3 separate regions of the Homo sapiens genome follow, and all the other regions are linked to region 3. Evidence: fine-mapped expression QTL. A gene starts in region 3. Each other region holds a variant in brackets. All regions are shown on one strand. Distances are from middle to middle.

Region 1 (9,897 bases), 270 kb before region 3:
TAAAAAATCTGAGAGCTGTCTCTGATTTTCAGGGTTCACACATGTAATGTAGGATGTCAATGTTTATAAAAGGGATGTTATTCTATCTACTATTAGAAATATGCTGTCAATTAACCTTAAACTTTCTCAACAAAATAAAAAATGTTGATGAGGTACAAATAATATATCTAGGCTTAAATAGTGTTGCAAATTTTAATATGCCTACTTTTCAATTTTTCAATACTATCTTTACTAATTTAACACTGTAAGAAAAATGAGTAATTAAAACATGAATAAAAGTGTTTACAGTGGATGCACGTTTCCTCCAGCCTCTGCCTATACCCAACTTTCATCCCAACTGTCCTGATGGTGGCTCTAAGCATTTCTCCTTTCTCTATACCAAGATATCTCCCCAGAAACAAACCCAAATCTTACTATATGTTATGGCACGCTATGATGATGAGCAGCGATGAGCAGCCGAAGCCTCAAGGAAGGGATGCTTTTGTAAAACAAGACTTGTGGAATATAACATGTGAAAGTAAAGCCCATGGCAGAGCTCCCTCCTCAGCACACGGGGAGCAGACAGGAAGCTGTTGCCTCACCTTCCTCAATGGCCTGCAGCCACGTCTCCCAGGTCAGTCTTAAGGACAATGAAACTCTGGTCTTCACTGTGGACACGCCACACTACCAGGTGCTCCAAAGCCATGGTGACCCACCCTCGGGTGGGTCCTGAGGAGAACAAAGCTCTGGTTCTAATTCTAACCCTAACCTTGTCCCAAGACTTTGACACTGAACCTAAATCCTGATCCCTATCCTGGTCCCTAATTCTGACCCTTACTTTGACCCTGACTTTGATCTCGACCCTGACCATGACCCCACCTCTAACCATACTTCTGGCCCTGACTCTGACCCAGATCCTAATCCTATCCCTAACCCTATTATTATCTTTACAATCTATGTCTAATCTTACCCTCTAGTGCTAAATAGCTGTACCCAAAAGCACTTTTAAATTATTTAACTTCTTTTCCATGAATTCTCTAAGGACATCCTAAAGGAGATGTCAATATGTATTTTGCATTCCCTCTGAGTGGTATGGCTTCAGATAAGAAGTTCTAATACTTTGCAAGACATAAAAAGTTTGGAGGGTGACAGCACTGGGTTGTTAGGGATGCATGTTGGCATTCGTTGTAGTCATAGGTGCTGTTCTCCAGATATTTTCAGTTCATATTTTATGAATGCATTCTGACTGTTCCATCCCGCCTACTTACATTTTCACATGGCCACATGACTTTTTTTTTTTGCCAATGGAGGTGAGAAGAAATAACATGTGACTTTTTCAGGAGAAATCTCCAAGAAACAGAGTGCTATTCCACATACTTTTTTCTCTTTTCTATAGCAATGGGGATCTTATTGATCGTCCCTCCTTCCGTCTGGATTCCTGTGTTAGGATGACACAGCACAGAGCTACCTCTCACCTGACCCATGATGAAATGTAAATAAATGAGGAAGAAGATTTTTGAGCCACTGAAATTTGGAGGTTGTTTGTCACCACAGTTTAACCTAGCCCCCATTGACTGATGCACGGCTGAAGAATGAGTCCGAACTGGATCTGGACAAGACATGTGAAGAGAGCTCCAGGCTGAGTTAAATTCAAGTGTTTTCTTAAAGATAACAGTGAGCACGATATGTTATTGGGGTGGGTGTGGGATAAATAAGGTATATCAGGTGAGAATAATAAGAAACTCAACTTTAAAAGAAGGTGCTGATTTGGACTGTAGACAGATTCAACTGCCCTGCTTAGCATTTGCGATTGTGATGGATGAACTAATTAAGAGCCCAAAATGAAAGCTTGGGATAAATATCTGAGGGTGTCTAATATCCCAGTTTTTCATCCTAGAATGGGCAGAGTCCTTGACCCCATTCTAGGGAGACTTCCAAAAGAAAAAAGACCTGCATTTCTTCAACAACCCACATAGAGAGACTTTCCTGCACTTTTGACCTGTGGCTAACACTCCTTACCTTTCATTCTGTCATCAGTGTTTTAGGGAAACACCTTTAACTCTCTACGATTTACAGGTTATTAAGTGGCGCTTACAATTCCCTCCAGAGGTGAAAAAGACATAATGATGGTGTCTGAGCTCACAGCAGCAAGCAGGCGTGTGTGCTCAGCAGCCACGTGGCTCATCTGCTAGGAGCTTGCTAAATACGATGTTCTACAACATTGCTTAACACAAGGGGAGACGCTCCTGACTTGGAGAGTTTAATTGCTCACCTACTTCTTTTTCTGCCCTCTTGGGCTTCTAAAATGAAAAGAACCCTGGGGTGATAAAGTGAGTCAAAGGGGTACCAGGTGCATCACAGCAAAATAGATTCCTAAAAAATCCCTGGCCTAAGATGATACCCTTGGCTGGATACGTTTGAATGTGCTGATAGTGGACATGGTAGAGTGAAGGTGGTTGAAATGTTCATATTAAAGAACTTCCACCCAGATTGCAAGAAAAGAGAGAGGAATGGAGATGGCAGCACGAGTCCCTACAATAAAAGCAGATGTTTTGAGACCGGTTATATTTCTTCCGACAAAAATTAAAGACAGAAACCAAAGTTTAGCCTGAGGCTACAATTAATTGGGCAATAAGCCGAAGGCACATATGGCATAGACAGATTTAAACATTTCTCCCTTATATTAATACAAATACTAAAATTACAAATACTTTGATTCCAAATAAAACAAATATTTAAAAAATTTAATGAATAAACACTGGGGTCTACAGTAGTATTTGAAGGAGATCTCACAAACAGGTTTGGTTTTTGAAGGTTAGAACTGGTGGTCTAGAGAATTCATTTCATTCCAGAGAGAGAAAGAGAGGAATTTCTTGGGTTCCTTCAGGAATGTGTCTAGCTTTGCCTCATGTTTGTTTGAACGATGGATACGGCAGAAGAAAGCATGAGGATTTCACAGATTTAAGGTGCAAAAAGTCACTGGGTTCTCTAAGAAGTCTGGGATTCTTCTGCTGCAAAAATAAGTTTGTTGAGAAAAAATGAGTTGGAGGAGGCTGTTATTGAAGTGAAGCAGAATTGTTTTTACTAATCTGCTTATTACCCACTCTGCAGTGTGGAAACAAATTATTCATGCACAAGGTCCTCTTACTGTTCCTAGAATGCAGTGGAAAGAGAACAGATTAGTTTTTCTCACTCAGAACACAACCCCTAGAAACATCCTACCTCAGATGAGATATTGCCTAATTATTTTCAAAGGACAGTGAAAAATTATGGATGTAATGTTTGCTGCAAAATTAATACATGCTAGAAACAGAAGCATCTGGGTCACAGCTATATTAGAGCTATCTGTGTTCCCCTGTCACTGAGATTAAAACAAAAATGTCCAATACAATCACTCACAGCATGGGAGAGGGGAAGTTGAAGGATGGAAAGGCCAGGCATAAAAGGATTTCAGAATTTCCGTCCATAAGGAAGTAGCTTTGTGCATTGTCTGTTACTGTGTGCAAGGTGAAGTTTGGAGAATGAAAACGTGCAGTAACAACGGCTCCTTTGTCCCTCTCACCTCTCCAGATACCAAGTTTCAGACATGTTGCATTTTAGTTGAAAGGTTGATATAATTTTTTTTAAAGAACACTTGCGGTGTTTGAAGTGACAAAGGCTGCTGTGACAAAAAAGCAGGGAAAGGGATTTTTTTTAAAAAGCAAACAACAACAACAAAAACCCCACAGAAAAGCAAACAACAAACAAACAAAAAACAGAGGAAGAAGTTGAACACCCTGGGCTGTGACTACTTCCAGGAAGGGGCTACAAGAGGCAGTTGGAAATTCTATTTGCTTTGCAACTGTGGGTCTTCCAGCCTGCTTCCTTTCTAAAGTATATTACTCTGCTTTTGGTTCATGAAATTATCCATTTCTGTTTTCTGGAACAGCTATGTATTTTCTTTATCTATCATCTATCTATCTACCTGCCTATCATCTATCTATCTATTTACTATCTATCTTTTCTACCTTTCGCTATCAAGAGCTTGGGTCAAGCAGGATAGAATTCCAGTGTATATTCACTCTACCATTTAAAACAAGAGCTCTTGTAGGCATTCTCCATCACATCATAAACCTGAGCTTTCTAAAACAGGGTGTGGCAAACTACCATGCATGGACCAGGTCTGACACAGTCTGCGTTTGTAAGTAAAGTTGTAATGGGACACAGCCA[A/G]TACATGTGTTAAAAAACGTCTCTGGTTACTTTCATGGTATAATGGAAGACCTGAGTCATTAAGAGAGAGACCATATGGCTTGGAAAACTTAAAATATTTAACATTTAGCCCTTTGCAGAAAATATTTGCTGACTCTTGTTTTAAGAGATCTCTGTTTAGAATGCTACCTATTGCCTTCTGGATAGAATCACAACTCTTTACCACGATCAACACAGCTTCAGCCCTGCTTCTATATCCAGCCTCATCTATTTCTGCTCCTCCTCCTTATTTTCCTTCCGGACATGCTGATGAATTGTCAGCTTCCCAGATGTGTGAGAATCTCTCCTCCCTTCCCAGCATTCTCATGCTCTCCCTCTGCCTCTCAAGAACTTCCTGCCCCATCTCTCATGACAAATCCCTTCTTCATTCTTTAAGATGCAGCCCCTTTGCTCCTTCCTTAAAGATGTCTATCTGGCTCTATTTTGGGTGACATGCTCCTTCTGCATCTCCCAGAGCCACCCTGTGTGTGTCAGCTACAGCATTTCTTTGCATCTCTGTGTCATATATCACCAAATCTGCCTAACCTTGAGTGAGTCACTGCATGACAACTTCAGACTCCACCAGCATTGTCCCCACCAATCAATTATTTTCAACCATTTAAAAATGTAAAAATCATTCTTGCTTCATGGGCCATACAGAAACAGATGGTGGGCAGAGTTGGCCCAGGGGCAGACCACTGTTTGCTGACCACTGCCACACTGTCTTAATCAAGGCAGCTTTTATGGTGAGCCATGGTATCTAGTAATTTCTCCCATTTTTGTCCCTTTTAAGGGCCCTTACTTGGCCCTTTGCATTTCCATATAAATTTTATAATTAATTTGCAGATGTCCACAAAAAAGCCTATTAGAATTTTAATGGGACAGCTAATGCTAGAAGGGTAATTTTAGGAGAAACAAGAGATGCTTATAAGTTGTGTGTGTGTGTGTGTGAGAGAGAGAGAGAGAGACACAGAGAGAGAGAAAGAGACAGAGAGAGAGAGAGACAGACAGAGACAGAGAGAGACAGGGTTTCACTCTTGCCCAGGCTGGAATGCAACGGTGCAATCATGGCTCACTGTAGCCTCGACCTCCTAGGCTTAAGCAATCCTCCCACATCAGCCTTCCAAGGAGCCAAGACTACAAATGTATACCAACACACCTACCTAATTTTTTTGACTTTTAGTAGAGATGGGGTTTCACCATGTTGCCCAGGCTGGTCTCAAATTCCTGGGCTCAAGTGATCCACCCACCTTGGCCTCCCAAAGTACTGGGATTATGGGTATGAGCCACCATGCCTGGCCTTTTAAAAAAGTTTGAGACAGGGTCTCACTCTGTCACCCAGGGTGGAGTGCAGTGGTGTGATCATGGCTCACTGTAGCCTCAACCTCCTGGCTCAAGTGATCCTACCACCTCAGTCTTCCATGTAGCTGGGACTACAGCTGCGTGCCACCACATCTGGCTCATTTTTTTTTTCTTTTTTAAGTAGAGACAGGGACTTGCTATGTTGCCCAGGCTAGTCTCAAACTCCTAAGCACAAGCGATCCTCCCGCCTCGGCCCCTGAAAGTGCTGGGATTGCAGGCATGAGCCACCACACCCGGCCAAAAGTTGCTTTTGAGGAGTTATTGCTGTGTGGATGTGATATAACCCTTTCTGTCATCTCTTCACAAAACTTTCTGTAAAACATAAAAATCACCTGGACCTTCAGAGATGAGTTTGTTTATTTTTTTATTTTTTTAAAAATTGCTAATTCACAGAACATGGAGATGAGTATGTTTTGAAGGCTTGGAAGCATGCAAGTGGGAGAAGAAAGGAGTCAGCTACATTCTGGCTGTGTGCAGAGGCAGGTCACTGTGGTGGGAGTGTTCCTGTCTCATGGACTCTGCAAATCACAATGCTTGGCATGGCCTCCCGACCCTGATGGCAGAGAAGCAAACACCAGTCGGAGAGCTGGGGTCCTCCCAGCCCTCTTGGCCCTGTGGCCAATTTTTTCTCCAATAGCCTCATAAAATCACATTATTTGAGTGTCCATGGCTCCAAAACAAGCAGGGATGCCCATGGACCCTGATTATCCATTGTCACCCTTCCCTCCAAACAGCCACCTCTCCCCTGGAGACAGCCCCATACTCCACTCAGACCTGTGCACTTCCTGGTATCCTTGTCACCTGCTTTTTATGTCTCATTTTACAAACACCAAATTGGAAGACAGCAGGAGCTGCCCCATAATACCAGTAAAGTGAGAAGCAGAGATAAACTAGTCCTAGACAGCCGACTCATGTTGGGGGCAGCCCACTCACAGTGGCCCTGACCCAACTCTGACTAGAGGCCACTTGCTCTCAACACCAGGGTGCTCAATGGTCCATCCTGGTACTCTGCTCTTCTCTCTCCACCTTCGCTTTCCTGCAGTCTATGCAGCCTGTGACTCCATCCATGGGCTAGTGACCCCCAGACCTTTTCCTGGGACCACAGGCCTGTGTCTCTATCAGCTGCTCAATACCTCCCCTCGAACATCCATGGCTAACACTGAGCTCCTGATACTCTCTCCCTACCCGCTTCTCTGTGGATTCCCCACCTCCACGAAGGACAGCTTCATCCTTTCAGCTACTCAGGCCAGAAGACTGAAGTCATCTCCTTCTCCAGGAAATCGTATTGGGGGAGCTACAAATATCCAAAATCCGATCGCTTCTCCTCCACTACACCCGAGGCCCGCCACCCATTTTTGCCTGAATTGCTGCAGCAGCCTCCTAACCGATCTCTGCTTTCACGTGGGCACCTCAGTTTTTTCCAGAACAACAACCAGAGAGATCTGCTCACACCCAAGTCAGACCAGGTTACTCCTCTGCTCTCATAGCATTTGGAGGAAAACCCAGAGTGCTCGTGTTGGCCGGCAGAGCCAGCCCCCATCTCCTCTGACCTCCTCCCCACCTCTTGCCCTCAGCACCCAGAGTGCTCGTGTTGGCCAGCAAAGCCGGCCCCCATCTCCTCTGACCTCCCACCTCTCGCCCTCTGCACCCAGAGTGCTCGTGACGGCCAGCAGAGCCAGCCCCCATCTCCTCTGACCTCCCACCTCTCGCCCTCAGCACCCAGAGTGCTCGTGTTGGCCAGCAAAGCCGGCCCCCATCTCCTCTGACCTCCCACCTCTCGCCCTCTGCACCCAGAGTGCTCGTGACGGCCAGCAGAGCCGGCCCCCATCTCCTCTGACCTCCCACCTCTCTCCCTCAGCTAGTCCTCGAACATGTCTGATGTGGTCCCACCTTGGGACCCACATTGCTACTCCTCTGCCTGTAGGGGTACCCACAGTTATCCACACAGTTCACTCCTGTCTTTCAGGTCTTTGTGCAAATATCACCTTCTCAGTGGAGACTACACCTTCAGGACTTAGGCTGTGCCTGGCACATAGTAGGTGCTCTGTAGACACTGGTTGTAGGAAGGAATCTACAGGTTGAAATAAGGAGATCATTTCCCTGAGGTTCCGAAGCTCATATTTACTCACCATTTGTTGTTTACTGCTAATATTGAGCACTATCAGTAAAATACATAAAACCCTTTGCCAATCCAGGAAATGAAAATGACACTTTACTGTTTTAGTTTGCATTTCTCTGCTTACAAATGGATTACACGCATTTTCATGTGCTGTTGGCTACTTATTCATTCAGAAAACATACTAAGTGCTGGCTCTTTTTCATGTCCTTTATCAAGTTTGGATCATGTCATTTGCTGTTTTCTTTCTGATGTAAACTCTCAAAGTTTGAAGGGTATTGTCTTTTCCTGACACATACATTGTAAATAATTTTCTGGCTTACATTTTGACTTTTAATTTCATTCACGATGTTTTTAATGAATAATTTTAATTTTTATGAATGCAAGTTAAAATAATTCTTTCATTGTGGTTTCTGACATGTCATGCCAATAAGGGTCTTCTCCTCCAAGAGCACAGAAATATTTGCCAATACTGTCCTTAAAATCGGTCACAGTTTCATTTTTTATATATGCATTTTACTTCAATTGGGGCTTCATTTTACTGAATGCCCTATTTGAAGCAAGTTTCTCAGTTAATTCTTTTCTCAAAGTGCTAAGTATGGTAGATTGCAAACATAAGTGGCCACATAATACTCCCACCTCCTTGGCCTCCTCTCCCAGGAGGAGATAGCCTCCATCTTTCCACTCCTTAATCTGGGCTTGGCCATGTGACTTACACTGGCCAATGGGATATTAACAAGTCTGATGTGCACAGAGGCTGTAGAATGTGCACTGGGGCTTGGTCTCTCTTGCTGCCCTGGAGACCAGCTGCCCCACGAAGGAAACAGAGCCAACCTGCTGCTTCCTGGGGGGAGACAGTCCCTCAGTCCCTCTGTCTCTGCCAACCAGTTAACCTGCTGCTTCCTGGAGGAAGACAGTCCCTCAGTCCCTCTGTCTCTGCCAACCAGTTAACCTGCTGCTTCCTGGAGGAAGACAGTCCCTCTGTCCCTCTGTCTCTGCCAACCAGTTAACCTGCTGCTTCCTGGAGGAAGACAGTCCCTCAGTCCCTCTGTCTCTGCCAACCAGTTAACCTGCTGCTTCCTGGAGGAAGACAGTCCCTCTGTCCCTCTGTCTCTGCCAACCAGTTAACCTGCTGCTTCCTGGAGGAAGACAGTCCCTCAGTCCCTCTGTCTCTGCCAACCAGTTAACCTGCTGCTTCCTGGAGGAAGACAGCCCCTCTGTCCCTCTGTCTCTGCCAACCAGTTAACCTGCTGCTTCCTGGAGGAAGACAGTCCCTCTGTCCCTCTGTCTCTGCCAACCAGTTAACCTGCTGCTTCCTGGAGGAAGACAGTCACTCTGTCTCTGCCAACCCAGTTGACCGCAGACATGCAGGTCTGCTCAGGTAAGACCAGCACAGTCCCTGCCCTGTGAGCCAAACCAAATGGTCCAGCCACAGAATCGTGAGCAAATAAGTGATGCTTAAGTCACTAAGATTTGGGCAAAAGCTGAGCATTTATCCCAATCCCAATACTGTTTGTCCTTCTGTTTATCTGTCTGTCCTTCTCTGCTCATTTAAAATGCCCCCACTGCATCTAGTACATTTTTATAGGATCAGGGATCTGCTCTTGGATTTATGTCATGTTCCCACCTCGAGGCAGCTTTGTAAGCTTCTGAGCACTTCCCAATTCCGGGTGACTTCAGGCGCTGGGAGCCCTGTGCATCAGCTGCTGCTGTCTGTAGCTGAGTTCCTTCACCCCTCTGCTGTCCTCAGCTCCTTCGACCCTGGGCCTCAGGAAATCAATGTCATGCTGACATCACTCTAGATCTAAAACTTGGGTTCTTGGACCAGGTGCGGTGGCTCACATCTGTAATCCCAGCAATTTGGGAGGCCGAGGCGGGTGGATCACAAGGTCAGGAGATCAAGACGATCCTGGCTAACACGGTGAAACCCCGTCTCTACTAAAAATACAAAAAAATTAGCCGGGTTTGGTGGCAGGTGCCTGTAGCCCCAGCTACTCGGGAGGCTGAGGCAGGAGAATGGCGTGAACCTGGGAGGTGGAGCTTGCAGTGAGCCAAGATCACGCCACTGCACTCCAGACTGGGAGAGAGAGCGAGACTTTCTCAAAAAAAAAAAAAAAAACTTAGGTTCTTGGATGTTCGGGAAAGGGGGTTCTTTATCTAGGATCCTTGAAGCACCCCCAAGGGCATCTTCTCAAAGTTGGATGTGTGCATTT
Region 2 (9,897 bases), 58 kb before region 3:
TTATTCTTCTTCTAAAAAAAACCCTCATGTCTTTTGTAATTTTTTTACCAAAAATACCAAAAATTGTATCATTATTTTTCATACTTTGTATATAGAGTTACACACATTAATTAGAATTTTTAAATCTTAGTGCCCTTAATTTTTAGTGGAACCTAGGAAGTAAGCAATTTTGAACTGTTATATGATAACATTTTATGAATACATATTTTATAATTTTTCAGAAACGTGCTTCCTCATAGAACAATTTCTCAATGTAGAACAAGACACAATGTTTTCTAATAGACCCAAACAAATTTTATCTTTCCACAGAACTTTCGAAGCCAGGAATAAGCTTACACTTATGTTCAGCGATTAATGTTTTAGTATTTTAACTTGTCTGTGTTACTCCTGAGAAACTTCCTGAGATATTAAGCATCCATCATCTTGAGGTGTTTTCCTATTAACCATTTTTACAGCATGTGACTGTCAGGCGGTCATCTCAAAATCAAGAAACCGAAGCGTTAAACGCACGGCGTTTTGTTTCATTGCTGCGCTTCCTGCGTGAGGAGTAACGGGCGTGCCGCCTCACTTCTGCGGGCACACTTGTTTTTAGGTCAGACTCATGCTTTACAATTAAACATTTAGCAGAGATGAAAGTTGCGTGTCTGCATCATCTTTAACGCTGAGGACTCTGAAGACACCTGCTTTTATCAAACCGGCAAATCTAAACTCACCTTTATTCACCAAAGTTTACCCCAGGTCAAGTGAACTTTAAAAACATTTGGGTTAGTTCCTATTTTTTTTTTTTACAGTTGTAGGTATGCTCATTTATTTCTAAGTCAATTTAAACAATGCCTCTTACTAAGTAGGAAAGACCTTAAAGATCTTTTATTTGCTCCATTTGTAAACAGTCAAGAATCACGCCAATCAAAAAATGTGCACAGCACACAGTCAGCAGTGCTGGGAAAGGATGGCTCGGCTGGCTGAGAAGTTCCCAGGGGGAGAAGCAGAGTCTGGCAGAGAAAACACAGAGCCACCACGAGTTATAGCCTGAGCATCAGCTTCCAGTTAGCCTGACTTCTCATCAGGGAGCTCTAAAGAAAGTCCCTTTTCAAATATCTTATTATCAGCTTTTAACCAGGACAACAGTAAACATTCCCGGTGGTATTGAAGTCTTTCTTTCCTCCCTTCTAGTTCCATTTTAGCTTAGGACAGAAGATCAAACAAACAAAAAGTTCCTATAATGCTCCAAATATTAACCAACTTCCAAACCAAAAGTAAACCTACTTCCGCTGTGATTCAAAACTAGTAAGCCCTGTATGGCTTAACCATGGATGCAAGAGGTCCCCAGAAAGGATGCAAAGGATGTAGCCCCCTTCAGGATCCAAAATTTCTCTTGAAGATAGGCTAAGGAAGTAAAGATGCTCACTGGTAACAAGGTAACCATGGTGAGGCGGTTAAGGTAAGTTCCTGAGAGCAGATGTGGTCGAACAGAGACACTTCATGTTTCGGTCCTGGCCGGTGACCGCCATCAGAAGCATGCCTAGCAACTCGGATCTCCCAGTGGGCAGAGACCGGAGACAGCATCCTCACTGGTTATGACCAAGTTCTCAAGACAGAAAACAGGCCTTAGGGCAAACCCCACAAAAGGCAGAGACAAAGAAAACAGCGGCTATTTCTGGGAAGCTGTGGCCAAAAAGCAACGGGCACCCAGCACCAAATTCACAAGAGTCACCATTTAAAGAACCACTTCTTACAATGTTCTCCTTTCGATCCAAATTTAAAAAGGGACAAGAAAACCTTTTACCTTCTCAACCAGGCATTCCAGGTAGTGGCGTGAGAGAGCTGACTTTGGGAAGAATTCCTGCCTCTGCCCTGTGTCAGGTGTCCTGGAATCCCACCTGCAGGTTCCGGGGAGAGGACAAAGTGGGATATCCCAGCCTTTAGCGTCCCAGTTGGACGCTAGATAGACTAGCAGGAGAGAAGCATCATACAGGTTTTACATAGCATGGGAGCCCCCGTATGGAAATGAAGACCCCAGAGAGGCCGTTATCAATTCACTAAATCATTCCAGGGGGCTTAAAACATACGAGTTATCTAACAAGGTCTGTACAATGTTCTGTCTGCTTCAGCTTCTCATCCTTGAAGATAAGAAGGCTGCCTTTCCTTCCTTCCTTCCTTCCTTCCTTGCTTGCTTGCTTCCTTCCCCCCTATTTATGGTCTCCGATGGGTGTAGAAGTTAATTTCTTGGATGTTTACATTTCAGCTAGGGCTGGTGAGAATAAAAAACCTCCAGGCAGCTTTGAAATCAGTGTGTTTTTTGGTTTTGTTTTAATTATAGTTGTAGCAGTGGGTTTTATCTTATTTGAAAATGACTCATTTTATGAATATCTATAAGTTCACGTTAAGGCTTCAAGTTTCCCCCAAAATATGTTTGGACTTCATTTTAAGTAGACACAGTTTATAAAACAACTATCATTGAAAAGTTGATGAACTTTAAAGTCATTTACATTCACCTACAATTATGCTTTAATTCCTTCTTAATCAAAACTGGCCATTGAAGGAGTCAGGAAGGACCATTCCAGATGATGCTTCTTTAACACAAATATTCTTTTCTGCTAAAAGCAATGAAGAAGTAGCAGAGGAAGGGCTCTATTTTTCCTTCCATCTAAAGAAGGATATTAATTTTCTTAACTGGACACAACTCTTACCAGCACAGAGATGGCAGCAGGGGAATCCTAATTACATCTTACTTCACTCATTTATTCTCATAGTTTTTGCCTCTGGAAGCCAAAAGCTGTTTTCCTTTATAGACGTGAGTTTTTACAAAACAGTTTCAAAATAGCCAGCTAAATGCCAGAAAGTGTTTAGTTTGATAGACAGTCTTTTCAACTTTGCTTGTTTCTTGATTAGATTGCTAACTTCAGGGTAGAGCCCATTAAGGAATAGTGGGGAGAAAACATTTTTTTATGTCTGCAATCAGCATGGGTAGCTTTGAAAAAGAAGCAAGCCTGCTGTTTTTCAAGTGATTCTAACTAAATTGTCAATATGCCAGAATAGCATATTTAATTACTTTATCTCCTTCATCTAGAACTTCCCTAGAGGTTCCATGTGTTAAAAGATGAATTGGTGTTTGTGGAGAAAAGCTGGGGAGCTCTGAATAAAGGGGGTGGGGAGGTCAGCCAGAGAAGGAGGAGGAGGATGTGCTGTGGGAAGGGGAAGGAAGGGCTCTGGGAAGGAGGTGCCTTGGCTGGTGTGGAGACAGTATTTTGCAACGAGGCCTTTTTAAAGTCCTGAATGCACTTTGAAGCCTCAAGATGGCAACTAAAAATACGCGCCTCATTCAGACTGTTTAACCCAATAGCTGCAATTTTCTAATATAGTTCTAGGAAACCAGTCTGGGGAGTTGGAATGATTCTCAAATGGCCACTGGAATTCTAAATCACCCTTGGTGTCATCTGTCCATGGGCTTAAAATGTGCACAAAGGGCCACAATGTTTGAATGTACGACCAGCTGAGCCCCCGAAAGCCGGGCGTGCCTTACACTTTGAGAATCCCATTCTGTCTCCTACTGCACTTTTGAGAGCAAAAAGAAATTCATATAACCGCTGTATGTGATATTTGCTCTTTAAAGATGTTTTGAAACAAGCAGGGAGAGCAGAAGTAAAAAAAGCCAAATCACTTAATCACTTATGGACGCACAGAAACAAACAAACCAGAGCACTCCCCAGGACCAGAAAGGACAACCCGGCCTCACAGGGTCCCAGGACGGACGCAAGGTCCTATATTAAGGTGGCCTGGTCCAAGGCAGATCCCGAGCGAAGTCAAGCTTCTGCCGGAAGGAGGGCTCTCAGCCTGGGAGAAGATGCACGTGGCAGAAGAGGTGGGCCGCAGAAAGGAAGAGCTCAGAGGCCTCAGG[C/T]GGGCACTACACAGCAGTTCCAAGAATTGTCACTTCCTTCTGAAGGCCATCTTCCTTCTGGTCCTATTTCTGGCACCAGATTGTGCCATCCTGAGCAGCAAAGGGAGCGGCTCTCAGGATAAGTGAGTTTATTTGGAACAACACAGAGGCATAAGGACTTTCAGAGCGTCTGTGCAGCCGCTCTTACCACAGACGCACAAGCAGGAGGCTCCCTTCCTCATATCTCCCGTGCGTCTGTGCAGCCGTTCTTACCGCAGACGCACAAGCAGGAGGCTCCCTTCCTCAGGATCTCCCACTCTGCTTTAGGAGAGCAACTGCATCCTGGCATCAGCAACTTCCACAGGCTCTGAGGGATAGCGTCAGAACCAGGCACCGAGCAACCTACTGGGATTCTGGAACAGAAATTATAATAACATGTAACCTTTATAAGATCCCCAAGAGGGTCTGATATATAGCCGAGTTAGGGAAGACTGGAGTAGTGAGTTGAATTATGTCTTCCAAAAATATGTCTAAGTCCTAACCCTATATGGCTTAGCTAGGTCCCCACCCAAATCTCATCTTGAACTGTAGTTCCCATAATCCTCGTGTGTCATGAGAAGTGATTGAATCATGGGGTGGTTCCCCCATGCTGTTCTCATGATAGTGAATGAGTTCTCATGAGATCTGATGGGTCTTTTTTGTTTTGTTTTTGTTTTTTTGAGACGGAGTCTCGCTCTGTCACCCAGGCTGGAGTGCAGTGGCACAATCTCGGCTCACTGCAACCTCCACCTCCTGGGTTCAAGTGACTCTTCTGCCTCAGCCTCCCAAGTAGCTGGGATTACAGGTGCACGCCACCATGCCTGGCTAATTTTTGTACTCTTAGTAGAGACAGGGTGTCACCTTGTTGGCCAGGCTGGTCTCAAACTCCTGACCTTGTGATCTGCCCACCTCAGCCTCACAAAGTGCTGGGATTACAGGCCTGAGCCACCATGCCTAATGGATCTGATGATTTTATAAGGGGCTTTTCCTCCTTTTGCTGGGCACTTCTCCTTCTTGCCGCCATATGAAGAAGGACATGCTTGCTTCCTCTTCTGCCATGATTGTAAGTTTCCTGAGGCCTCTCCAGCCATGCAGAACTGTGAGTCAATTAAACCTCTTTTCCTTATAAGTTACCCAGTCTTGGGTATTTCTTCATAGCACCATGAGAACGCGCTAATACACCTCAGTACTTGTGAATGTGACCTTATTTGGAAATCAGGTCATTGCAGATGTAATTAAGTGAAGGATGTTGAGATGAGATCACACTGGGTTGCCCTGGTGGACCCTAAATCTACTGACTGGTGTCCTTATAAGAGAAAGGAAGAGGGATATTGGCACAGACAGAACAGGAGAAGAGAGAGGAAAGTGGAGAGGGCACATGAACAGAGGCAGAGATGGGAGCAATGCAGGCACAAAAACACAGGCCCAGGGACACCTCGGGACACCAGGAGCTAAGAGAGGCAGGAAGGCTTCTCTCCTCAAGCCTGGGAAGGGAGTGAGGCCACCAACATTTTGATCTCAGATTTCTGGTCTCCAAAAGCGAGAATAAACTCCTGTTGTTTTTTAGAGACGGAGTGATACGGTTTAGATGAGTGCCCTCCACATCTCACGTTGAAATGTGCTCCCCAGTGCTGGAGGTGAGGCCTGGTGGGAAGTGTTGGATCATGGGGGCAGATCCCTCGTGAATGGCTTAGCACCACGGCCTGGGCGATGAGTGAGTTCCTGCTCGGTTGGTTCTCGGGAGAGCTGGTTGTTTAAGAGTCTGCTCCCTCCACCTTCTGGCTCTCACCACGTAATCCTGCCTCCCCACTGCTTCGGTTGTTTAAGAGTCTGCTCCCTCCACCTTCCGGCTCTCACCATGTAATCCTGCCTCCCCACTGCTTCGGTTGTTTAAGAGTCTGCTCCCACCCACCCTCCGGCTCTCACCACGTAATCCTGCCTCCCCACTGCCTTCCACCATGACTGGAAGTTCCCTGAGGCCTCCCCAGAAGCAAAGGCTGGCACTATGCTTCCTGTACAGCCTGCAGAACCATGAGCCAATTAAATCTCTTTCCTTTATGAATTACCCAGCCTCAGTATTTCTTTATAGCAATGCAAGAACAGACTCACATGCAGGATCTCACCCTGTCGCCCAGGCTGGAGTGCAGTGACGCTAAGCTGTGGGCCACATTACCGTATCCCAGACAGCCAGGACTTGGTCAATGACTGTGGCTTCCTGAGTTGGACTCCTCATCGCCTTTCAACTCAAGACCAAGCTGGGAAAGCCACATGTGCTCCATTACCAAGCCCGTAGGCCGCCCCCGCTCCCCAGAGCCACAGCCTCCACCAGGGTACGCCAGGGCTGTCTGTTCCACTGTGAAGCTCCCCAGCCCAGCTGCCTTCAAGTCACTGTCCAACACAAACAATGTGGCCAGGCCCTTGCCCAGCCAGCCCTGGGTGAGCCCTACCTGTGCTCCTGGGGGTCTTTGATGACATCCACTGCCTGGGCCAGCTCCCTCGACACTCTCCACCTCCCGTCCTAGCTGCCCCTCACATCGAGTGCCCCTAGGCACCCCCCAAGAGCTGCAGACCCCTGCCTTCCTTCTCCACATCTGCCCCTCACAGGCTTCCCTGCCACTCTCCCTGCCCTCCACTGCCACTCTCGCCCTGACCCTGCCATGTCTGCCCATCATCCTCACGTGTGCACTGCTGGTGGTGTCTAGGGTCAGGCTTGTCATGTGTGGCCCCTGAAGGCAGACGGTTCAGCAGTTTGCTCACTGTTCTTCCTCATGCCTCAAAGTGTGTACACATGTTCATGGCAGCAGGTACACATGTTCATGGCAGCAGATACACGTATGTTCATGGCAGCAGGTACACATATGTTCATGGTGGCAGATACATGTATGTTCACAGCAGAAGGTGCACGTATGTTCATGGCAGCAGGTACACATATGTTCATGGCAGCAGATACACGTATGTTCATGGCAGCAGGTACACATATGTTCATGGCAGCAGGTACACATATGTTCATGGCAGAAGTTACACATATGTTCATGGCAGCATTATTCACAGCCGACGAAAGGTAGAAACAGCCCAAATGCCTAACAGGTGTGAAAGGAAAACAAACCTTGGGCCCCCAAATTCCTAAGCTAAAGGGAAAATTCTAGCTGGGAACTGCTTAGGGCCAATCTGCCTGCCATTCTCTTCAAAGTCTCCCCTCTGCTCACTGAGATAAATGCATATCTGACTGCCTCCTTTGGAGAGGCTCATCAGAAACTCCAAATAATGCAACCATTTGTCTCTTATCTACCTATGACCTGGAAGCCCCCTCCCTGCTTCCAGTCTTCCCGTCTTTCCAGATCAAACCAATGTTCATCTTACATATGCTGACTGATGTCTCGTGTCTACGATGTATAAAACCAAACTGTGCTCCGACTGCCTTCAGCATGTTATCAGGGCCTCCTGAGGCTGTGAGACCTGTCTCAGTTACTTTAGAAAGTTTATTTTGCCAAGGTTGAGGACACGTACCCATGGGGAGGAGAAAAATGATCCTAAGGGGTAGATGTAAAGAAGTACTGTAAATAACAGGCCAATAGCGTGTCCAATCAATCGGACACCAAGACACTTGATGTCTCCTTTCCGCAAAAACCCTCACCCCAGGCGAACAAAGGGATGGCCACTCTAAGCTTCCTGCAGCGTCAAAAAGATTTCCACCCCCTCCTATCCCTAGAAAGAGGACATGTCGATCCCATTCTTCCCTGGAAAGGGGAGGATCAAGAGGAGGTGGATGCCTGTCCTGCAGCAGGGCAGCCTCCTCCTGTGCATGACCACATCTCACACTCACACCTCTCTCCTCCACACCCCCATGTCTCTCCCCGTTGAACACCCATGTCTCCCTCCCTTGAGCACCTGCCTCTCTGTCCTGCTTGTTCCAGTACTGGGGAGACAGGGAGCCACCAGGCTCTGGATTGGGAGCCCTGGGAAGCCACCCCGAGGGGCAAGACAAGCTTGGGTGAGCCTCAGTGCAACAGAAAGTGCAGTTCACTCTCACCAGGCTCCATCCTCCACCGAGAATGATCAGGCCTCAATCCATTCCTCAGAAGAGGAAACGGTGAGCACTTTATGCTTAAAGACAACATGGCTTGGAACCACCAGGGCACTGCTGTTATGATAATTCACCAGCTTCAGCATTCGGTACACATGACCAGAGTGTGTCAAGAATAAAGACCATGTGACTGATAACAAAGAGGGAAAGAAAGAGCAGAAAGGGACCCACGGATGATCCAAAATGGTGTTGCCAGAGAAGGACCTTAAAGACAGCTGTGATGAATGAGCTCAGTCACAAGAGATGGGAAAATGAGGGATTCCGACAAAGAAATGGAAACGTTAAAATAATAACACAGACGTTCTTGAATTGAAAAGTATGATATCTGAAATTAAGAATGAAATTGGTGGGTTTAATAAAAATTGAACACAGCAGAAGATAGAATTTGTAAACATAAATGCAAGTCATTATAAACTACCTCAACAGAAGTAATAGAAAATACTCAAATGAAAGGAATGGGAAAAAATAAATAGAAAATCCAGAAAGGAAAAAAATAACAGATGAGACATAGTCAATAGGTCTGAGATATGCATAATCCCAGAGAGAGATCAGAGTTAATGGGACAGACGAAATATTTGAAACGATAATGGGTGGGAATCTTTGAAAACTGTTGGAAGACCTTAATCCACAGATTCATGAAGATCAGCAAATCCCAAGGGGGATACATGTAAATCCCACCTTGGAGCACCCTACTAAGAGTAATGAGAGCCAAATACAAAGAGAAAAATCCACAAGCATAGGGGAATTGTCACGTGCCTTTCTCGGTAACTGGGATAACATAAAATTAGTCAGGATAAGGAAGACCTGAGCAACATAATCAACTAGAGCGGCCCAATTGTTCTGCCTCAGACCTTGTATCCAAAATGGCTTGCTTCCTCTTCTTCTTAAGTGTACACATAACATTCACCAAAATTTCCATATGTTGGGACATAGGGAAAGCCTCAAATAATTTCAAAGGATCTAAATTTAAAATTCAGAGCATATTTTCTGACCTCAGTAAACTTAGAAGTGAAAAAAAATACTAAAAAATGCTAAACTTCCTGGAAATTAAAGAATATGCTTCTAAATAATCCAGTGGCCAAAAGAAATCATAGCAGAATTTGGATATGTGTTGAATAAATGGTGATGAAGAAAAGACACATCAAAACTGCAGGATGCAGCTAAGCCAAGAGAAAATTATATTCACTGGAGCCTGCAGGGCAGCCACCCCGGCACAGGAGAGAGAGGACAGCGACGGGCCAGCGGAGACCTCAGGACAGCCCCGGCCTGGGCACATCTGGCTCCTCCCCCCGGCCTGGGCACCTCCGGCTCCTCCCCACAGCCTGGGCACCTCCGGCTCCTCCCTGGGGCCTGGGTACATCTGCTCCAGGCCTTTGCAGACACGGCGGCCGAGCACCCCCGGCCGGGCTGTGCAGCTGAGCACTTGGTCCTCTGCTCTGGGGGACAGTAGCGTGGCTTTTCCCACAGCTGGGGTCCCTGCAGCATCACGGGGCCACAAGTCGGGGTGACCTGCCTGCTGCGGGCTCCCTGGGTCAGACGCCCTCGAGCCTGGGTCCTCCAGCTTCCACTCCCCACAGCCTCTGGCCACAGATTCGGTTGGAGTCGCTGCTGAGGCCACAACAGAGGGCTGCGGCCGAGCGTCCACCAAGACAGGGGTCCGGCCTCCTGCCCCACCTGGCCCTGAGCGGAACCACTGCAACCCCTTCTCACCCTCCAGGAGCAGCCGCGTGCGGGGAAACAGCATCCCGTGTGAGGTGGAACCGGGAGAGGAACCTCCCCCCGCACCTTCGGGTGGACCCGGAATTGCACTCATTTATGTGGCCATTTGGAAGATGCCCCCGTGCGCTGAGCCCCCCGTCCCCTCGGTTCCTCCCTTCTCCCTCTCCTCCCCCCTCCC
Region 3 (9,897 bases):
GACACCCTCAGTCATTGCCAAGCTGTGCTCCTAATAGCTTAGAAAATATGGTATTCAGGAAAAAGATTCCTCTGCAGGTGGCTCTGGTCAGGAAATTGATCATGAAACCACCACCTTCCCACTCGGTGCCGTCTAATCTGAGAGCCCCGTGTGCCTCCTGAGTGTAGAGGAGAATGTCTTCACCCTTCCCAGCAGCCACTCAGCTCCTGCCTGCTGCGATGGAGGACGTCCCTGAATGGCTCCCTCCCCGCCCCCATCTGAGGGCTCCTCAAAAGCAGGGTTTCGCCCCCACCCTGGAATCCCAGACACCCACTGCAGCCCCCGCAGGCCCCCAGGAAGTGCGGGATCCCCCTCGCTGCTGGGATTCTAGTACAATGCTGTGTCCGGCCCACATGGGGGAGCCGGCTCAGTGGCTTTTTTTTAGGTGAAATAGTAGTTAGTCAACACCTTAAAATCTGGATATGCTTCCTAAAAATTCAGATTTGAGGCATCTATGGAAAAAGTTTGCCCAGAGCAGCTGTGAGCTCAGCACCAGCCGCCCGTGGACATGGCGGCACCTCACTTTGCCACAGACCCCACCACTCCCTGTTGCCCTCCCCAGCGCTGAGCCAGATGGATAAGGACTCTGCAGCTAAAGTGCATTCCTAGAACACCTGGCTCAGGCAAAGTCCCAGCCCCAGATATGGCTCCAGAGGTAATCCCTGCCTCCCTGCCTCCCAGGTCAGCTCCTGGCCCAGCTGCTGACCCCCAAGGCCTCACGAGGTTGGTGCGAAGCTGCCTTCTCTGCGGGGCCTTCTGGGACACCCCCTGCCACCTTGTGCTTTGTGGCAGGGGGTCTGCAGCTACAGGGGCGTCTGTTCCCCCATGGCTCATTCACTCAGACCAAACATTGCTGTAGCCCAGGGACCCCTCGGGAGGGCGTGGACACTAGCGGGCAACACTGTGTACCCATCAAGCTGGGCATGGGGAGGGCAGCTGGGGGGAGTCTGAGCTGCTGGGGCCTGGGATGCCGCTTCAGTAGGGCGTCCACACTGGGCCAGGCATGGGCCCGAGTCCCATGAGAACTTGTGGCCTGTCCAGTGTGTGGAGCTTCGACGGGGCACCATGGACGGGAAAGACACCCCCTCACCACGCTGGGACTCACCCCTTCCCTACACTAGGACTTGCTCCTCCCCTCCCCACACAGGGACTTGGGCTCCACCATCTGTCCTGATGACTCCAGGCACCAAGGACCTTGTCTGCTGAGAGGGCTCAGACAGGAGGTGGGCCGGGCGGCAATGTGCGCGGGGGCAGGCGTGTCCCCGGCACCAAGAGGTCACAGTGGAGCTGAGCAGGTGCAGCCTCCGCACTCGGGCCTCAGCCTTGCGGCCCAGGAGAACAGAGTCAAAGACAGGCGTCCCCGGAGCACGGGACTTTCCAGGCTGCTCTGTCCGGGAGACAGAGCCTGCAGACCCCTCCTCACGCCCGCTCCAGGAAGAGGAGGAAGCCTGGGCCTCCTCTCCAAGCACAGAGAGGCCCCAAGCAGGGGCGGGGCAAGGAGGGTGCTGGTCTCTCTAGCGTTTTGTGAAGGGAGCAGCACTCGCGGTGAGCTGGGCGCGGGGCCCACCGCGCCGTCCTTGTCCCCTGCCACCATCTGCCGGTGCAGCCGAGCGGGCGGCGAGGAGGGTCCTTGGGGAGAAGCAGAGACCGCCCCATGCAGGCGTCTCACCGCGGACATGGGCGAGCGCTTCAGTTAGGAACATTTTTCCTTACAAAGGATGTCATGACTGTGGCTCACTAATTAGTAGTTAATAGAACCCAGTTCAAAAATGACTCCATAATGTGATCACCGGGCCCCTTGCAGATGGCCCAGCCGTAGTGGGCACCCCCTTCTCAAGGGAGGGCGGCCCCTGGGAGCCAGCAGGCCTCATGCGGAGCAGCCGCCACCAGCCTCGGGAGCCCTGGGCCTGAGTGTAACCGAGTTCACCTTCATGGCAGATTTCGGGGAAGGGCCCTGGGCCTGGCCCCTGGGCTCGGGGACGGCGCCCGCGTGCCACCGTGAGTGCAGGGCCAGGATGCTTCAGGAGCTGTCCTTTAGGTGCGTGGAGGCCCCGAGTGGCCGTGCAAGGGGACACAGTGCTCAGCACTTGCCAACTCCCGGGCAGACCGGGCCTGGGTCCAGGTTCTCAGGTCCAGCGTCCGGTGGCCCCGACTCCCTGGGCTCCCGGGAGGCACGAAGGACAGAGCTGGGTGATGCCGCACACGGGGAAGGCTCAGCCTGTGCTGCTGCTGCGACTGTGAGGACGCCGGCTTCACCGTCACAGAGCCCAGGTACAGGGGCGCAGGACGGGGCTGGCACAGGAGGCTTGGAGGCGGCGTTCCGGGCTGGCAGGCGGAGGGGAGGCGGCGGCGGAGGGGAGGCGGCGGCGGAGGGGAGGCGGCGGCGGAGGGGAGGCGGCGGCGGAGGGGAGGCGGCGGCGGAGGGGAGGCGGCGGCGGAGGGGAGGCGGCAGGCGGGACTCCTGGGCTGGAAGGCGGCTGAGCCCGGTAGCTGGAGCCCGGCAGCCTGGACGACCGCCTCTGATGGGGTGGGGGTGGCGGGTGCAGGAAAGTCCACTCAGAACCTCCGTGGTGCTACAGGGTTGTCTGGAGCCCACTGCACTGGGATAGCTCAGGAAAGAGGAAGAAACGCAAACGCCTCAGCCTGCGGCAAATGCATTCTCCCAAATTCCTCCTCCGCTCTGGCTGACTGCAGATAGTGCACACTTGACCTACAAACTCCGAAACACGGGGAGATCAGAATGCGCTCCCTGCCGCCTTGCTGCTCCATCAGGCACGGCCAGCACGGTGGCGCCCTGCCGTCCCTCCGCACACACGTCAGAAGGAAGGGGCCTGGAAGGACAAGTTTTGAAGTGTAGGCCGGTGTTGTGATTGCTGGTTGGTTTGGCCTCTCGGCTCCAGGGCAGGTGGGGAATCCCCGGGGCGCTCGCGCATAGGACCTGGGGAGACCACCACGGGCTTTACAAAAACGCAGTCCTGCTGGAGACGCCTCTCCTGGGGCTATTCCTTTCCGTTTTTAGGTGGCTTCCTCCCATCGGTGCTGCACGCAGCGGTTTTTCTGAAGCAGCTGCTGGTTCTCACCGGCGTCTTCCACCCGCGCTGCCTGAGCACCGTCTTTCCACCTTGTGCATTCTGTGCGCTGCGGCATGTCCCGGCGCGTCCTGAGGCCTAACCCCAGTTCGCAGGGAGCCACAGATCAAGGTGTCCTGAGCACACGCCAGGACTCGGGAAATCACGAACAGCTCCCAATCCACTGATGACACCCACAGAACTCCAGTTTAAAAAAAAACAACTGTGAAGGATAATATAAAAAATAAGTGTACCGTCTGCTTTATGATAGTAAACGAAAATTTCCCAAAAGCTTTCACCTGAAACTATCAATGACTTGGAAACCTCATAAAGAAGCAAGTGACCCGGGAGACTGAAACGAGATCACGGAGGCTGGCCCTGGGCCGGCCCTGCTGCCGGCTCCCTGAGGCCTGGAGGGATGGATCCTGGGAGAGGAACCCCGTCCAGGACAAAGCCTGGGGGCTTCACTTTGTGCATCTACCTGATGGCACCAGGGCGGCGGCTGGGACAGTGTTTCTGGGTGCGGCTGGGAGGGTGTTTCCGGACGCGGTGACCCCCGTGTGCTGGGCGTCATCCAATCCTCTGACGGCCTGAAGGTGCCGCGGTGGAGGAAGGAGGAATCGCTCCTGCTCGCCTGCCTTCCTTCCTGCTTGCTCCAGGACGCCTCATCTCACCGTCTCTGGACCAAGGTCTGGAATTTACACCAACCTCCCTCAGAGTCGGGTTGACTGACACCGCAGGCTTTCCTGGGTCCCAGATGGCAGATCCCGAGACCTCTCAGCGCCTGTCACCGCGAGAGCCAGCTCCTCACAATAAATACGTAAACCCATGTATGGGTGGGGCAGAGAGACCCTAAGCATTTCCACACCTGCCTTGAGTGTGTCTGCATCGTCGTTTTGTGATATACATTTCGCCTGCAGTAAGTGCAAAGGCCACCATTCCTGAGACGCAGGCCTGGGCAAAACCCAGGACTCCTAGGTGCCCCGACGCCCCTCCCCAGACAATGCTCCCTCCCACCCACAAGGTTTCCTGGGAGCAGCCGTCGAAAGAAGAAAAAAACAGTCCCGATGGGGGCTGAGGGCAGAGGAGGCCCAGCTGGCCGTCCTCCAGATTCCCATGCTGCCAACAGCTGCCCTCCGGACGGACAGCTCTGCCAGGGACGGTGCCCAGACAGAGGGCAGCGCGTCTTTCTGGGACTGAACCGACGCCAAGCATGCGTGTCACTGAGCCCATGTAACAGAGAGCGGCAGGCGAGATACAGGCGTGCACCCCGGAGAGGACAGGCTGAGGACCCTCAACAGAGACAGGAAAACCTGCCCGTCACTGAGAAATGGTTGGAAAAGTAAGCTCTCTGTGATGTGACAGGCGCTGTCCTTGCTTGAGAGATTGGCGCTGCATTTGGGGGCCCCCAAAAGGTGAACAGAGTATGTGACATATCTGGCACAAGACGTGAGCCCACCCGCATTTCGCTGGGGGAACTGAACTTTGTAATTTTGTTTTCCCACTGGGATTCCTGCTGTCAACACCTTTGGTGGGGGGAGAGTGTCTCCATCACCTGCCTCACAACACGCACCCCTTTGTGTGTCTGTTGTTGTCATTGTTGTTTTGTTTTGTTGCTGTTGTTGTTGTTTATGAGATGGAGTCTCGCTCTGTCGCCCAGGCTGGAGTGCAGTGGCATGATCGCGGCTCACTGCAACCTCCGCCTCCCGGGTTCACGCCATTCTCCTGCCTTAGCCTTCCGAGTAGCTGGGACTACAGGCGCCCACCACGACGCCCGGCTAATTTTTTGTATTTTTAGTGAAGACGGGGTTTCACCGTGTTAGTCAGGCTGGTCTGGATCTCCTGACCTCGTGATCCGCCCGCCTCGGCCTCCCACAGTGCTGGGATTCCAGGCCTGAGCCACCGCGCCCGGCCGCGTGTCTGTTTCTTCTGTCTGCTGGTTTGCTGGTTCTCCCTTTTGCTGCTGGTTTGTTTTTGTCCCATGAGGGTTTAAAGGGCTGCCTTTGGGGGCTAAGTGTCCTAAGAGCAGAAGCTCTAACGCCCACGCTGCTCTCTGAAGCCCCTGCCAAGAACAGCCAGGTCTCAGCTGTCAGATGTTTTCCAGCTGTTACTCGGTTTGAATCTGACACCAGCCCCAGCTTCACTCCGGGAGGCGTCTGCCCAGACACCAGAGGAGGTGCGAAGTTCCGGGGAAGCAGCTGGGCCCGGCCCTGACTGGTGGGTTCCGTGCATCCCACCCTCCTCATTGGATGAGTTTTCACTCACTGAATTCGCGCCAGCGTCCTCAGCACAGGCAGGCGTGGCTGAGTTCAGTCCCTTCATGATCAACTTTGCATGTCTAAGTTTCTGGAACAAAGGGCGTGGCATCGATGGGCGATTTCTGTGGCCCTCCAGGGGCAGCTCCCCAGCAAAGCGCCCAGCACCCACATCACAACAGGCTGCGCAGGCCACAGCGCCCGCGCCTCTGCAGCTGGAAGCCCCCAGCCAGGGGTCACATCAAGCTCCTCGAAGGAGTCCCCAGCACCTGTTCATTGCAACCTGAGCCGAGCTCCAGAAGGCACCCTTACCCTCTCCACCTGAAGCAGGTGATGTGTTTGCAGGAAACGAGCCCGCGGGTCTCAGCTGCCTGGTTTTCCTCTCGGGCCGCGCTCCTGCCACCCTGTGTTCTTCCCCAGCAAGAGAGAAGAGTGGGGGGCGGGGAAAGAGAAATGCCTCCAAGGCCAAGCAAGGCCAAGCTGAAGAACAAAGTGCCCCAAGGGAGCCAGCCAGGGCTGCAGAAATGGCTCTGCCCACCCCATAGGCCCCGAGGAGCTGGCCGGACAGCGGCTTAGGGGCTCAGGCAGCCCCAGAACAGTGGATGCCTCATTCATTCCGAGACCCACCGCCTTGCACCCCGAAACGTGGCCCTGGCTCCCTTGTGTAAACCCCATCCTCAAGCACAGAGCAGGGCCATCTACGGAGACCTGGAGCCAGGCCAGGGCAGGCACAGCCCAGGGACCCAGGCTCCACGCGTCCCAGGGAGAGCTGACCCAGAGCCGGGCTCCCACTGCTGGGTGAAATCGGGAGGAGGGCTCCAGAAAAGGGGCTGCTGCTGTCGACACTTTCCCTTTGTCACGGACATTCTTTTTTTGTTTGTTTGTTTGTTTGTTTGTTTGAGACGGAGTCTGTCACCCAGGCTGGAGTGCAGTGCTGCAATCTCATCTCACTGCAACCTCCACCTCCCGGGTTCAAGCGATTCTCCTGCCTCAGCCTCCAGAGTAGCTAGGATTACAGGCACCCACCACCAATCCCGGCTAATTTTTGTATTTTTAGTAGAGACAGGGTTTCACCATGTTGGCCAGGCTGGTCTCTTAACTCCTGAGCTCAAGTGATCTGCCAGCCTTGACCTCCCAAAGTGCTGGGATTACAGGCGTGAGCCACCACGCCCGGCCTTGGACATTCTTGATGGCTGTAGATTGATATTCTAAGATTGCTGGTGTCCCGTAGATGCACGAGTCCAAAATAATTGGAAAGTAAACATTTCAGTCAGCCTCACTTTAGCATATTACATCAAATAGCAGAGCTGAAGTTTTTCAGTGTAACCTGCCACATTTAACCCCACTGCTGGGTTTACATATTTCAAACCAAAAGGTACCCAATAACCAGGTGTCGAGAGAGGCCAACTGAGCTGGGCACGCTGGCTCACACCTGTAGTCCCAGCACTTTGGGAGGCTGAGCCAGGAAGACTGCTTGAGCCCAGGAGCTCAAGACCGGCCTGGGCAACATAGTGAGACCCAATCTCTACAAGATATACAAAAATTAGCTGGGCATGGTGGTGCACACCTATAGTCCCAGCTACTCAGGAAGCTGAGGTGGGACAATCACTTGAGTTCAGGCGGTCAAGGCTGCAGTGAGGGGAGATCGCACCACTGCATTGCAGCCTGGGTGATGGGAATGAGACCCTGTCTCAAAAACAAGGGATGGACTCACCTGGCACAGAAGCCACAGCCCCATCCAAGAAACGCTCACCTCGCTGGTGGGACTGCAGATCACCCACACTAACACACAGAGAGTTAGAAGTGCATCATTGCTTAGATTTTAAAATGACTAAAAGCCCAAAATGGAATTTGCCCTCCATTTCTACTTCTGCCAACCCAGGAGACTGCTCCAGAAGGTGGAGCCGGTAGAGCGTTTAGGAGCCGGTCAGGAGCCACCTGAGGCCTGAGTCTCAGAGGGCAGCCTCCGCCATCCCCCACGAACCAGGAAGGCGGGGACCACGATGCTGCAGGCTGAGCCAGCTCCTCTGCCATCCGGGTGCTGGAGCACAAACTCGTCAATGGGAATGGCATAAGGTGACTGAGCTCTTCTCCACTTTTTATTTTCCAGAACATGAGTAAAAGCCTCACTCTTAAGAATCCTGGAAGAGTAGCATACGATTCAGGCGGGATAAAGATGTTTTGGGAGAAAAAAATCGAGCATCACGCAAGACACCTGCAGAACGAGGACATCAGGGTTCGCAGAAGCGCTCTGAACAAGTGAGTCGGGGTGTGCAGTGCATCGGGGACCCCTATGCCTGAGCCACGCTCGCCACCCAGGGGCACAGCCCCGCCAGCAGTGTGCCCTGACACAGCCCTGGCCCTCAGCCCACCATGAAACCCCTCAGCTCCAGGCCTGTGAAAGGAGTCAACCCAGGAGGAAACTGACAGCCATTCACTCACCTTAGTGATCACGCTTGGAACAGTAGGTGGGAAATGACAAGACACCACGTTGCTAACCGTGAGACCAGGAGCTCAGATCAAACATCACTATCCAGGCAACACCACACCCCAATGCCCACGGACAATTCACCCCCACCCCCACACCCACACCCCTTCACCCACACCCCAACACCCACACCCCCACACCCACACACCCACACCCCAACACCCACACCCCCTTCACCCACACCCCAACACCCACACCCCAACACCCACACCCCTTCACCCACACCCCAACACACACACCCCCAACACCCACACCCCAACACCCACACCCCTTCACCCACACCCCAACACCCACACCCCTTCACCCACACCCCTTCACCCACACCCCAACACCCACACCCCCACACCCACACCCCTTCACCCACACCCCAACACCCACACCCCCACACCCACACCCCAACACACACACCCCAACACCCACACCCCAACACCCACACCCCAACACCCACACCCCCTTCACCCACACCCCCTTCCCCCGCCATCTCCCTGACACTCCGTCCAGGATCACAGGAACTTTTCCAGGAGGAAATGTCTTTCTCTGGCTTGTTTTTCTGAGATCACTGCCCTTGAGTGACGTATCTGTACTTGTGCCCTTCCTCCTCCTAGCAGACTTGCTCAGGAAGGCAGATACCAAGCCAGCACGCCTTTCTCTCCTAGGGCCAAGGCCAGGGGTCTATGGGTGCTGAGTGGGTGACCCTGAGCCGACCCAGGGTGTAGCCACTGCTCAGGGACAGCTGGGTGGGGAGCAGAGCTCATTTGCTGCAAGACACTGGCCGGCACACAGCAGGAGCTTCCAGAGGCTCCAGGCAGCCCTCGGTGCTCAGGCCCCGAGCAAGAGAGCCGTGGTACCCCTTCAGCAGCCCGAGGCGGTCCCACAGAGCCTGGGGGTGCCCCTCCCCACTCACCAGCTACCCAACTACGGACATGGACCCAGCACAGAGCCCAGCACCACGCAGGCACTCGGCAGACGATGGTGAAGGAGAGGCCCCCCCCCACCACCGAGTGCTTGCCCCACGGGCCCTGCCTCATCCCCGCCCTGTGCTTCCTGGACGTGTGCCTGTGTGTGCCTACGTGCCTCCGCGTGCCTCTGCGTGTGCCTGCATGTGCCATGTGCCCTGGTGTCCTCTGGCCATTGCCTGGGTGCAGATCCCAGGAGTGGGCTCAGGCCCCGGGACTGTGTGTCCACGCTGCCTTCTCTGGCCCCTGAGGTGGAGGTTGGTGTCCAAGGCAGGCACCAGCGTTCTCTCAGGGGCTGGCAGAGCCTCCATTTGCACAACCCCCCTCCATCCACCCACACAGCCCGGTTCTCCCCAGGCCACGAGGCCAACCACTGCTTTTAAGGAGGTCACTCTTAGGGTTCCCGTTAGAGAGTAGCCTAACTTTCCTCCCCGCATGAAGCCCAGAGAGCTGAGAGGGTCCCGTGTGCTGGTGTGAGCCCAAGGGCCAGGCCCACCCCAGGAAGCCGCCGTGAGAGAGGAGCTGGCCCATGTGGGAGACCGGCCATTCGCAGCCCCTGGCTCGGGACCCCACGGTCCCCTGTAAAGGGACAGGGGCCGCTGCTTCCACCACCATGGGGCTGGCTGTCCTGGCAGCCTCTCTGGGATGGGCGGCCGGCTGTGAGGGCCGAGGACTCCAGGCCCGGAGGCGCCAAGTCTGTGGGACCGTGGCAGCTGCTGACATCCTGCCCAGCTGACCCTCTCATGCATGGAGCTGCCCTGGGCCCCACCAGTCAGCAGCCATGGCCTGGCAAGGGTGAACATAGCTGTTGCTCGGGGACCATCACCGTGGGGCCCAGCCGTCCGGGGTACACTGCCTGCCACTCAGCAGCACCATCGTCATCTGGGTCCTGGGCATCTGTGACAAGTGTCCTCATGGACACAGCTCACCCTTGGCTGGAGCCGGGCACCCACCCCACTCTCCAACTTCTAAAGCCAAAAGCACTTGAGGCTGAAGGAAGCGGCAGCTGCGGGCAGGTGGGGATCTGCCCAGGTCTCGGGGAGCCTGGACCACTCTGACCAGGCCATTCCTGCCGCCAGGTCCGCCCATGC

Which allele goes with the higher level. Alleles are on the strand shown, and positions count from the first base shown. SD is a standard deviation of normalised expression in the study named. Not every link is listed here.
For the expression in putamen of the gene that starts at base 4,343 in region 3, G is the low allele of the variant in region 1 and A is the other (moderate effect, 0.73 SD a copy in GTEx).

The links. PIP is the estimated chance that this variant, and not a neighbour inherited with it, causes the effect.
Region 1: its variant is fine-mapped to the expression of FAM240C in putamen (GTEx, PIP 0.97).
Region 2: its variant is fine-mapped to the expression of FAM240C in substantia nigra (GTEx, PIP above 0.99).

Annotation. Positions count from the first base shown.
Region 1 is chr2:242,160,280-242,170,176 of GRCh38, reverse strand. It overlaps LINC01881 (long intergenic non-protein coding RNA 1881), which reads right to left. Exons shown (of 7, transcript NR_130702.1): 7 at 9,674-9,897. Among named protein-coding and RNA genes, the nearest start is that of LINC01881, 77 kb to the right of the region's middle. The variant A/G (reference allele first, on the strand shown) is at 4,189.
Region 2 is chr2:241,953,252-241,963,148 of GRCh38, reverse strand. All of the region lies in intron 2 of LINC01237 (long intergenic non-protein coding RNA 1237), which reads right to left. Among named protein-coding and RNA genes, the nearest start is that of LINC01238, 12 kb to the left of the region's middle. The variant C/T (reference allele first, on the strand shown) is at 3,899.
Region 3 is chr2:241,894,910-241,904,806 of GRCh38, reverse strand. FAM240C (family with sequence similarity 240 member C) reads left to right here and starts at 4,343. Exons shown (of 3, transcript NM_001382368.1): 1 at 4,343-4,449; 2 at 7,473-7,621. The coding sequence starts at 4,438. The region is part of intron 2 of LINC01237 (long intergenic non-protein coding RNA 1237); the gene reads right to left. RefSeq lists enhancers at 2,938-3,583, 3,584-4,227, 4,228-4,872.